2 separate regions of the Homo sapiens genome follow, and region 2 is linked to region 1. The links come from fine-mapping of genetic effects on gene expression. A gene starts in region 1. The other region holds a variant in brackets. All regions are shown on one strand. Distances are from middle to middle.

Region 1 (5,390 bases):
CCTAAATCTTTCTTGGGTAATTTGGGGAAAAAAAATTGCTAAGATGGTAATCATAGCCGGGCACGGTAGCTCACACCTGTAATCCCAGCACTTTGGGAGGCAGAGGCAGGTGGATCACTTGAAGCCAGGAGATCAAGACCAGCCTGGCCAACATGGGGAAACCCTGTCTTTACTAAAAAAACAAAAATTAGCTGGGTATGGTGGCAGGTGCCTGTAATCCCAGCTACTCAGGAGGCTGAGGATCAAGAATTGCTCGAACCCGGAGACGGAGGCTCCAGTGAACCAAGATCTTGCCACTTCACTCCAGCCTGGGCAACAGAGCGAGACTCCATCTCAAAAAAAAAAAAAAAAAAAAAAAAGATAATCATAATAATAGCAAGCATTTGAATAGATAGGACTCACTTTTGTGACAGGCAGTCTTCTAAGAGCCTTATCAATGTAAATTGATTTGTTCAAAACTCACAACAAATCGATAGATGCTGTCATCTTCAGGTCACAGACAAAAAAATTTAAGGCACAGAGAGGTTAAGAAATTTGCTCAAGGTCACCCAGCAGGGAATTGGTAAATTCTTGATTTGAACCCATATACTCAGGATCCAGAGAGAACTGAGAGGAATGGGGATAAGTTAGGGGAGATTTAACCAGAAAGGCTAAATCCAGACAAATAAGAAACAGCTGAGAGAGGTGGGGAGACAGCTGGGGTAGGAGGAGGAATCATGAGCTGGAAAGACAATTCTGAAGACTCTTCTAAGAGCACCATTGGAGCAGCTGTGGGGTCTGAGGAACACGGGAGTCAGTGGAAGGAGGGAAGGAAACTTCTCCATTACTGGCAGGTGCTCTGGGATCTCTTTGAGTGGCTCTGTGTGGACACTGGACCATGCTGGGCCACAGCCTTTATTGGGGTTACACTTACAGTCTTATGGAGACAGATCAGAGTGCAGCTGCCATGGCTGAGGTAGCAGGTCCAGGGGTTCATCCTCCCCGTTGTCACTGCCCCAGGCCAGGCCCCTCAATCATTTCTGCAGAGCCCTAAGGCTTCAAGCAATACCATTTGAAAACCGCAATACCAGATGGACCTCCATTCAGTCAGTTCTCTTCTCTGCTTGGATTCGTTCCCATTGCCAAGGCCACAGAGAGCCCACCTAGGTCAGCAGCACCTGTCATCCCCTTGCAGGCAGCTGTGGAAGGCTCACCCTCTAATCTCCCTCACTCCTGGATCCTCCCATCAAAACTCAAGCGTCTGTTAAGTGATGGTTCTTTTTTTTTTTTTTTTTTTTTGAGACAGAGTCTCACTTTGTCACCCAGGCTGGAGTGTAGTGGCGCGACCTCAGCTCACTGCAACCTCCGCCTCCCGGATTCAAGCAATTCTCCTGCCTCAGCCTCCCGAGTAGCTGGGATTACAGGCACCCGCCACCATGCCCAGCTAATTTTTGTATTTTTAGTAGAGACAGGGTTTCAGTACGTTGGCCAGGCTGGTCTCAAACTCCTGACCTTGTGATCTGCCCGCCTCCGCCTCCAAAGTTCTGGGATGACAGCTGTGAGCCACCACACCCGGCCTAAGTGATGGTTCTAACCAGCAAGATGACCTTGAGCAAGCCTCTTCTCAGGGCCTCAACTATCAAATGCAGTGAAGATAACACATTCAGAAGCCAAGAGCCTGGGCTGCAAAACCTCTTAAGAAAGTGAAGAACAGTCAACGTGTAGTGAGCAACTACAAGATGCTGGTTTTACAATTGCAGCCATCGCTGGTTTCACTGTCCTCATTTGACTGAGAAACCCAAGGCCCAGAGAGGGGAAGTGACTGACCAAGAACACACAGCCAGGCAGTGCAGAGTCCAAGTTCACACCCAGGCCCTGGACTGATGCCTCTTCCTTTTCACCCACCCAACCATCCAACCAGCACAGGAGCTTGCACTTATGGTTCTGACCTTCCCTGAACCCTCTCTCATTCCCATGTTTTAGAGACAAGACAATTGAGGCTCAGAAGCACTAACTCACCTGGCCAAGGTCACCCAGCCTTTCACATAGGAGCCAGGATCCAGGCATGTGTGTGAATTCCAAGCTCGGAGCTCTTCCTATTGCTGTTCTGTAACACAGCCCCCCTGACTCCCACCCAGCGCTCAGAGCCTGGGCTTCTGTCTGAACCTGTCCCAGGCCTGGGCTGCTTAAAAGCAGCAAAAAGTTCCTCCTGCAGCTTCAACTTGAGCCTGTCACCATCATCAGCATACCCCGAGAGACTCTGGGGTGCCTGGGACAGGTAGCTGCAGATGCCTCCGGCCCCAAGTTGCCCTCTGCTCCTCCCGAGTTGTGCTCCTCCATGCCAGAGGAGGGAGGACAGCTCCCCTTGCCTCCTAGGCGGTTGGCAGAGTGGCAGCGGCTGCTGCTTCTTCCTGCTGCTGGCTGATGGAGAGATTATTTCTAAGCCCTTCCCATTCCACACCCCCCCACACTGGCTGTCCCCGTGGGACTTGAAGTGCAGAGTCCGCTGCTCAACCAGGACAGCTGCCCTGGCTCCCTCCCAGCAAGAACCCCCAGACCCTCATCTCTCATAAGGAAAGGGACTTCTGGGTCCTTTAAAAAAAAAAAAAAATCCCACCTCAATCCCCCAGGGCTCTCCTGCAGCTGCTGGAGAGAGAGATGCAGAATGAATGAACTTCTGGTTTCTGGAGGAGGCACGGGAAGAAAGATTGGAAACTGACTCTGCTAGAAACTGCTGTTTTGGGGATTTTTTTCTTCCCCTTCATCTCCACCAGAAACCTGTCCCTTCCCTGGGCACCAAGAGATGGGCTCCCCTTGCCTGGCAGAGAAACAGCTGGAAACTGGCTCCCTGAGACAAGAAGGTGAGTTAAACTGGAGGGGAAGAGTTACTGCTTGCTGTAGGGTGGGCGGGGGCCAGGGGGAAGTTGACGCTGTTAGACATCCTTGGCAAAAGTGCTGGTTTGAGTGAATTCCTTTCCCGTGCTCCAGAAGGAGCTGTTTGCCAGCTGTTTGGAGAGCCGTAGATGGCAAAATTGGGTTTATTCAGTGAATGCAGAAAGGGCAGTTTTCAGGTTCTGGAAGGAGCCCCAGGCTGGGGGACAGAGTGCTGGGTTGGATTCGGATTTGCTGTGTGACCTTGGACAAGTTACTTCCGCTCGCTGGGTCTTGGTTTTTGCACTGGGAAAATGAGGAAGCTTGCAAAGGGCTCCCCAGATTTCAAAATACTCTTCTCTCTGCAGGCTCCTCATCCTCCTCTGGCCATTCCCTGTGAGCAAAGTAATGCATTCAGAGCAACAGAATGTTGTGTAGGGAGCAAGAGTGTGAAATAGGTTACGATTCACTCTCCACTATCCACCGGAATCCAACCGGCTCTGAAATTGAGAGGAACTTTGATTTCCGTTCCACTGCCGAGTTTTTCTCTTGATTGGAGTGGAGTGCATCTGAAAATGTAAGCTTATAGATGCTTTGGAAATGGCTTTGGCTAGAATGAATAGCATAAGAAATGGTTGCAGGATCTGAAGGTGAGAAATATTATGAAAAGGACTTTTTAAATATGTGAAGTGGCTAAATCTAAAACACTCACACTAAGTCAAGCACCTCATATAGGTCTGAAATGGAGACAGCATTAGAGGCCCCGTCATTTTTTTTTGTTTTTTTCTTTTTGAGATGGAGTCTCGCTCTGTTGTCCAGGCTGGAGTGCAATGGCGCAATCTCGGCTTACTGCAGCCTCCGCCTCCCGGGTTCAAGCGATTCTCCTGCCTCAGCCTCCCGAGTAGCTGGGACTACAGGTACATGCCACCTTGCCTAGCTAATTTTTGTATTTTTAGTAGATACAGGGTTTCATTGGCCAGGCTGGTCTCGAACTCCTGACCTCAGATGATCTGCCTGCCTCTGCCTCGCAAAGTGCTGGGATTACAGGCATGAACCACTGCGGCTGGAGGCCCCTTCATTCTGCACATAAAAGCCTGCGGGCCCAGAGAGGGGGAGTAACTGGCTGGAGGTCACACAGCAAGGATGGCTGAGGCAAGCACGCAACGAACATGGAGGAGTACTGTGATTGCAAGTACGCAATGCTCCTCCGTCCCCTTAGCAAAGGCCTCCCCAAATGGGGAAGCGACCAAGAGGGATTAAGCGAGACTGGTGGAGTTCCTCCTGAGACCTAGATGCTTGGATGCTCGCTAAGCATAGTCACATTCCTGGGCTACTCGAACCTTTAATAACAGACCCTCGCTGAACCTTCCTGATGTCAGGTGCTTGCTAAACAGTAGGCAAGACACGCAAACCTTCCGTGCGTCAGCCTCCTTATCTATAAAGTGGAGCTCTTATGTCTACTTCATGAGGTTGTTGAGGTGAGTTAGGGGAAGCCAGGCATGTCAGAAGCATCTAGAAGTATTATTAATACACACTTTCTTGTATATTACTGCATATAACCCTTGCCATGCCCTACGATGTGGGCACTCAGACTGCCCCAGTCATACAGATAAAGCAAAGGACTCAGAGACACTGAGTAACCCACCTGTGCTGGCAGTCTGTAAGGGATCGGTCCCTGCCAGTGAACCTGAGAGCCTACATTCTTAAGCTCTATTTTTACTACCTGTACCTTGCAAGATTAGTATGAGTCTTGTCATTTGAATGAATGATGCTGAGATCAGAGAGGTTAAGCCACATACCTGAGACCACAGAGCCCAGAAGTGGCACCGCTCCGACTTGTCCAGCTCAGGACTGAATTACTCAAGCCCCCATCCGTGCAACGTCTATTCTGGAGACATCCTTCTGAGATGTCGGTAGAGGTTCCACCAGGGAAGGGTTTTTTTCACTGATGTATCCCAAGCACATAGTAGGTGCTCAATAAATATGTGTTGAACTAAAGGTTAAAAGAACAAGCCATGCAGATGCAGTCACAGGAAAGCACACGTAAGAACATCTGCAGTCGTGACATCCAGGACTCTTTGCCCCAAGACTGATTTCCCTTCCTTTTGCTTGCTCTTTGTCCCTTGGGTGTCAGACTGGTAAACCCAGCGCTTCCTACCTGGTGGTCTTCAGCAATGCCCATGCCTTCCAGAGACGGGGGCCTGCATCCCAGACACCACCACTATGGTTCCCACAGCCCTTGGAGTCAGCTCCTGTCCAGCCCCATGGAGACGCCGTCCATCAAGGGCCTTTACTACCGGAGGGTGCGGAAGGTGGGTGCCCTGGACGCCTCCCCAGTGGACCTGAAGAAGGAGATCCTGATCAACGTGGGGGGCAGGAGGTATCTCCTCCCCTGGAGCACACTGGACCGGTTCCCGCTGAGCCGCCTGAGCAAACTCAGGCTCTGTCGGAGCTACGAGGAGATCGTGCAGCTCTGCGATGATTACGACGAGGACAGCCAGGAGTTCTTCTTCGACAGGAGCCCCAGCGCCTTCGGGGTG
Region 2 (5,356 bases), 40 kb after region 1:
GATCATTTGAAAAACTGCCTAAGTCGGCCGGGCACGGTGGCTCACGCCTGTAATCCCAGCACTCTGGGAGGCCGAGGCGGGCGGATCACGAGGTCAGGAGATCGAGACCATCCTGGCTAACACGGTGAAACCGCGTCTCTACTAAAAATACAAAAAATTAGCCGGGTGAGGTGGCAGGCGCCTGTAGTCCCAGCTACTCGGGAGGCTGAGGCAGGAGAATGGCGTAAACCCCAGGGGGCGGAGCCTGCAATGAGCCGAGATCACGCCACTGCACTCCAACCTGGGCAACAGCGAGACTCCGTCTCAAAAAAAAAAAAAAAAAAAACCTGCCTAAGTGTTCTGCAGAGGCTGCCGCATTTTCCATTCCCACTAGCAGTGCACGAAGATTGTAATTTCTCCATATCTTTACCAACACTTGCTATTATCTGCCTTTTTTATTATAGCCATCCTAGTGGGGGTAAAGTGATACCACATTTTATTTAAGACAGGAGGTCACTTTGTCACCCAGGCTGGAGTACAGGGTGACAGAATCATAGCTCACCGCAGCCTTGACCCCCGGGGCTCAAGTGATCCTCCTGTCTCAGCCTCTCATGTAGCTGGGACCACATGTGCACACCAACACCCCCGGCTGTCATTAGCATGGTGATGTGCATTTCCCTGATGGCTAATGGTGCTGAGCGTCTTTGCATGTGTTTTATTGCCATTTGAGTATCGTCTTTGTTAATATTATTTGTTTTTGAGATGGAATGTTGCTCTTGTCACCCAGGCTAGAGTGCAGTGGCACGATCTCGGGTCTCTGCAACCTCTGCCTCCCAGGTTCAAGCGATTCTCCTGCCTCAGCCTCCCAAGTAGCTGGGATTACAGGCACCTGCCACCATGCCAGGCTAATTTTTTCTTGTATCTTTAGTAGAGATGGGGTTTCACCAAGTTGGCCAGGCTGGTCTCGAACTCCTGGCCTCAGGTGATCCACCTGCCTTGGCCTCCCAAAGTGCTGGGGTTACAAACCCGAGCCACCATGCCTGGCCTCAGTATCTTCTTTAGAGAAATGTCCATTCATATCCTTTGCCCATTCATTGGGCTGAATTTATTACTGAGCTGTAAGAGTTATTTATATATTGTTGGTATATGCCCCTTATCAGATATATGATTTGCAAGTATATCCTCCCATTCTGTGAGTTTTCTTTTCACTTTGTTGATGGTACCCTTTGAAACACAAAGGGTTTTATTTCGATGGAGTCCCAATTTCTCTATTTTTTCATTTATCATGATGCTTTTGATGACATATCTAAGAAAGTTTTGCCTAACTCAAGGTCATAAAATTTTACTATTATGTTTTCTTCTGAGAGTTTCGCAGTTTTGGCTCTTGTGTTAGGTGTGTGATCCAATTTGAGTTAATGTTTGTGCATGGCACAGAGGGAAGGGTACTTCATCCTGCTGCCTCTGGATACCCAGGAAAATCGATTTTAAAAATATCTTTTAGGTCGGGCGCGGTGGCGTATGCCTGTATTCCCAGCACTTTGGGAGGCCGAGGCGGGTGGATCACTTGAGGCCAGGAGCTTGAGAACAGCCTGGCCTACATGGTGAAAACCCATCTCTACTAAAAATACAAAAATTAGTCAGATATGGTGGCGGGCACCTGTAGTCCCAGCTACTCAGGAGGCTGAAGTAGGAGAATCACTTGAACCCGGGAGGCTGAGATTGCAATGAGACGAGATCGTTCCATTGTACCCCAGCCTGGGCGACAGATAGATAGATAAATCTCAAATATATATGTATCTTTTAAAACTATAATTTTTAAAAAGGTAATTTCACCACTAAACCATGAGGCAAGGTAACAATTTACTTTCCTCTAGACTCTCACTAACTTTTCTCTAGATTCTCACTGACTGCTCCAGGGCATAGGAAAAGGGCTCAGAGCACAGTGGAAATTTTCAAAGTGTCTTCTACAGGGTTTTGAGGACGGGGTTTCTGGTCTCTCTCTATATAGGGGTAGGTTACACTCCTGCAAGTGATCCTCTAACTAATTTTCCATTCAGTGCTTGTTTGTTGGGCACCTTCTATGTGGGAGACCCCCCCAGGAGGAGATGGAGATAAATGCACAAGGCCCCATGCTGGGAGCTGATGGCAGATAGGCCTGATGACAGTCACTGCTGAGGGCTGCCGAGAGAGCCAAGAACAGTGCCAGGCACGCTTCCCCCCTCATCTCACCATGGCCCTGCAGGCTGCATGTCTGTGATCCTGTCTCAGTTGGCAAGTGGGGAAGCTGAGGACTGGGGAGGCAGAGTGGCGCCTTGGCTTCCCAGAGACTTCCCAGGTCCACACTTCCACTCGGCACACTCTGTCCCAGAGTGAAGACAACACATGGGTCAGCACGGAACAGAGGGTGCCCTGAGCTGCAGGAGGAAGTGACGGGATGGCACTCGGAGGAGGCAGCACTTGTGCCAAGTGAGATTACATCACTTCCCAATTCAAATATGCTACTGTTGGTAAAACTTACACCCAGAGGAGAT[G/A]CGGCCAACTAGACATTAACAGATCCGCATTTCAGAAGTAGCTTTCATCATCACCCCGCAGTAATGAACAAGCTGAGTCAAAAGAACTGAGCGACTCTGATGTCACGAAAAGACTGTCTTGGGAGGAAAGCACTGGACAAGCAGATGTATGCAACGTGGGGACAAATATTACTGATTTGGCGGAACACAACAGAGTTAATGTCGATTTGAAAAACTTGTTTATCCAGTGATTATGTGATTAATGAACACCAAAAGGCTCATTGCATCAAACTGAAATTGGAAATGGCTGGTATATTTCCAGATTTGGTTGTAGTTACTACTACAGTACAAAAAGTAAATCAATGTAAACTATTTCCTGGGGAAAACAATGTGTAATACACAGGCTAATAGGCTTGGGTGTTCTTAAACCCCCCTCTCTTAATCCCTGAAAAAAAAGAGCCACGAGAAATCATTATTTCAAGGTTGGCCTGAGAAGTGTTTTCTGTTTTTTTGTTTTTTTAAAAAACCAAAAACTAAAGGTAAAAATCCTTGTCTTCTCAAACAAGAAATCGGTGCTTTCCTGGCTTTCCCGGCCCCGCGGACCCTTCCTGCTGGTGCAAACGCCTCTCTCTGTAGTCCTCCTCCCTCAGCAAGGGCTCACCTCCTGTCCTTTGCACATGTGAATTGCAGCTCCTCCTGCCTCTCAGCTCCCCTCTCCGGCCCTCCCGCCTGCCGTTTTCCCAGCCTGATGCCCCCAGCTCCAGACTCGCCTCCCCGCAGGCTGCCAGCCTGCAGCTCTTCCCTGTAATAGCACTGGGCATCCTCCTGACCTCCTGCAGCAGTCGGGAAAGAGCAGAGCAGAGAACGCGAGGGAACCTTAGGAAGGATATCACCTAGTCCTTGTTTTATAAATGAGCAAACTGGGGCTCAGAGAGGTTCAGAGTTTCATCCAAGGTCACGTAAGGAAATCCAGCTGCAGCCCTGGGTGGTGGCTGCAATCGAAGGGCTTGGAAGCCTGGCGGCCTGCACATCACCACAGCTCCAGCCCACCTCAGGTGCTGGGTGTTCTAGAAGTTACCTAACTGCACCTTGCCAGTTTCCTCACCTGTACACTGAGGCAATGATCGCATCTATCATGGCAAGCTGTGGGAGGTTAAAACAGAACAGACACACCATGCTTCAGGCGTGCTGGAGTTGTCTAGTCTGTCCACTGGTGCTGTTTCCTCTACCCCACCTCCCTCAGATTCTCCCATTTCATCGTCACTGTGGGGAAAGGAGACAGGATGAGCCCAGCGAAAGCAGACGGAAAGCCCAGGCCTGCAGATGGGCAGGCTGGCCAAGAACACACCCCTGGGACCAGCCCTCTGATTATTTCTCTAGATGAGTCAACCTACAAGCACGGAGGTTAAGTGGCTGCCCGTGGCCACGGCCACACACACCCAGTGGCAGAGACAAAAGGGGGTTGGAGGGAGAGGACCCAATCGCACGACTTCAACATTAGGCCTGGCCCTGAGTGACAGCTCTGGAGTGAGCTGTCTGCATCGGTCAGGGTTCTCCAGAGAAACAGAACCAACAGGATATATAGAGATGTATTGCGAGGCATTGACCCACACGATACGGAGTCGAAGCAGTCCCACCATTTGCTGTGTGAGTGCTGGGGGCCCACGTGGTGGCGTTCTAGTCCAAACTCGAAGGCCTGAGAACTGGGAGAACCAATGTTATGAGTCCTGGTCCAAGTCTGAAGGCCAGAGACCCAGGAGTTGTGATGTCCCAGCTCAAGGGGAGAGAGCGAATTCACCTTCCTCTGCTTGCTTGTTGTTTGCAGGCCCTCAGTGGATTGGATGGTGCCTGCCTGCACTGGGGAGCGCCATCTTCTTACTCAGCCCCATAATTAGATGCTAATCCCTCCCAGAGACACCCCACATGGGAGAGTAGCCTGTGGTTCTGAACCCTGCAACTGCTAGGGATGCAGGGAGGGAGTCACAGGGTGGGGGTCACAGGGCTGGCCACGGTCCTCTACTGTCCCTGGCCCCAGGTCCCTGGACTTCAAAGCTGTTGTGCTCCTGGCTCAACGGCTATAGTGCCCATGCTGGTGAGGTTCCAGGTGTGTGTGCGAGTGTGCACGCACACATGCTTTTAGTGTTACCATCTTCTCTCCCCATCCAGAGTCAACAGAGTGCCTGAGTGCCATGTGGCCTTACTATGCTACCCTGGGGGAAACGGAGAGAGAACTGCCGAGCCCACACAGGGCAGGAGCACTGTCCCTCTCCATGGTGGAAGACGCAGGCTCTAGCGGTCCAATGCCTCGCCCAGGTCCAACAGCCGGGCGGCCCAGGGAAAGCACTGATGCTGCTCATGCCCTCCCCACGCCCTTCAACATGGGGCTGCCCAGACCCCACAGCACCCTCGAGGGCCAGGGCAGCTAAAGCTCTGACCAGGGAAGGGTGTTCTCTGCCCTCCCACACATCCTGGGGGCCCAGAAAGGCAAGGATTTGGAGCCCCAATAGCGGCCAGAGGACAAAATGCTCACACATCCAAGCAGCCTGCCCTCCCACCCTTTACAACACCCGCAACCCGTGGCCTCCGTGGTCTCCTCCAGCACACAGGCTGGAAAACAGGAGGAACCAGGGGAGGTCACCTCCCCTCCTAAACCTGCCTCCAGCCCTGTGAACAGGGGCGGGGGTGACAATTCAGTGGCTCAGTGAGAGGATCCAGGTGGGAACCCAGTGAACACAGGGCCTCCCAAAGGAGGAGTGAGGGGCTCTCTCCGCAAACAAAGGGCCCCTGGCCACCCCAACACATAAACACACACACACACACACACACAGCCAACTACACACACAGGAACCAGAAATACTTCTTTATTC

Evidence for each region. PIP is the estimated chance that this variant, and not a neighbour inherited with it, causes the effect. A credible set is the group of variants that fine-mapping cannot tell apart.
Region 2: its variant is the best candidate, but not a certain one, in a credible set for the expression of KCNG4 in prefrontal cortex (GTEx, PIP 0.51).

Annotation. Positions count from the first base shown.
Region 1 is chr16:84,237,120-84,242,509 of GRCh38, reverse strand. It overlaps KCNG4 (potassium voltage-gated channel modifier subfamily G member 4), which reads left to right and starts at 2,498. Exons shown (of 3, transcript NM_172347.3): 1 at 2,498-2,840; 2 at 4,985-5,390. The coding sequence starts at 5,025.
Region 2 is chr16:84,197,145-84,202,500 of GRCh38, reverse strand. It overlaps ADAD2 (adenosine deaminase domain containing 2), which reads right to left. Exons shown (of 10, transcript NM_001145400.2): 10 at 5,335-5,356. Among named protein-coding and RNA genes, the nearest start is that of ADAD2-AS1, 2.8 kb to the right of the region's middle. The variant G/A (reference allele first, on the strand shown) is at 2,511.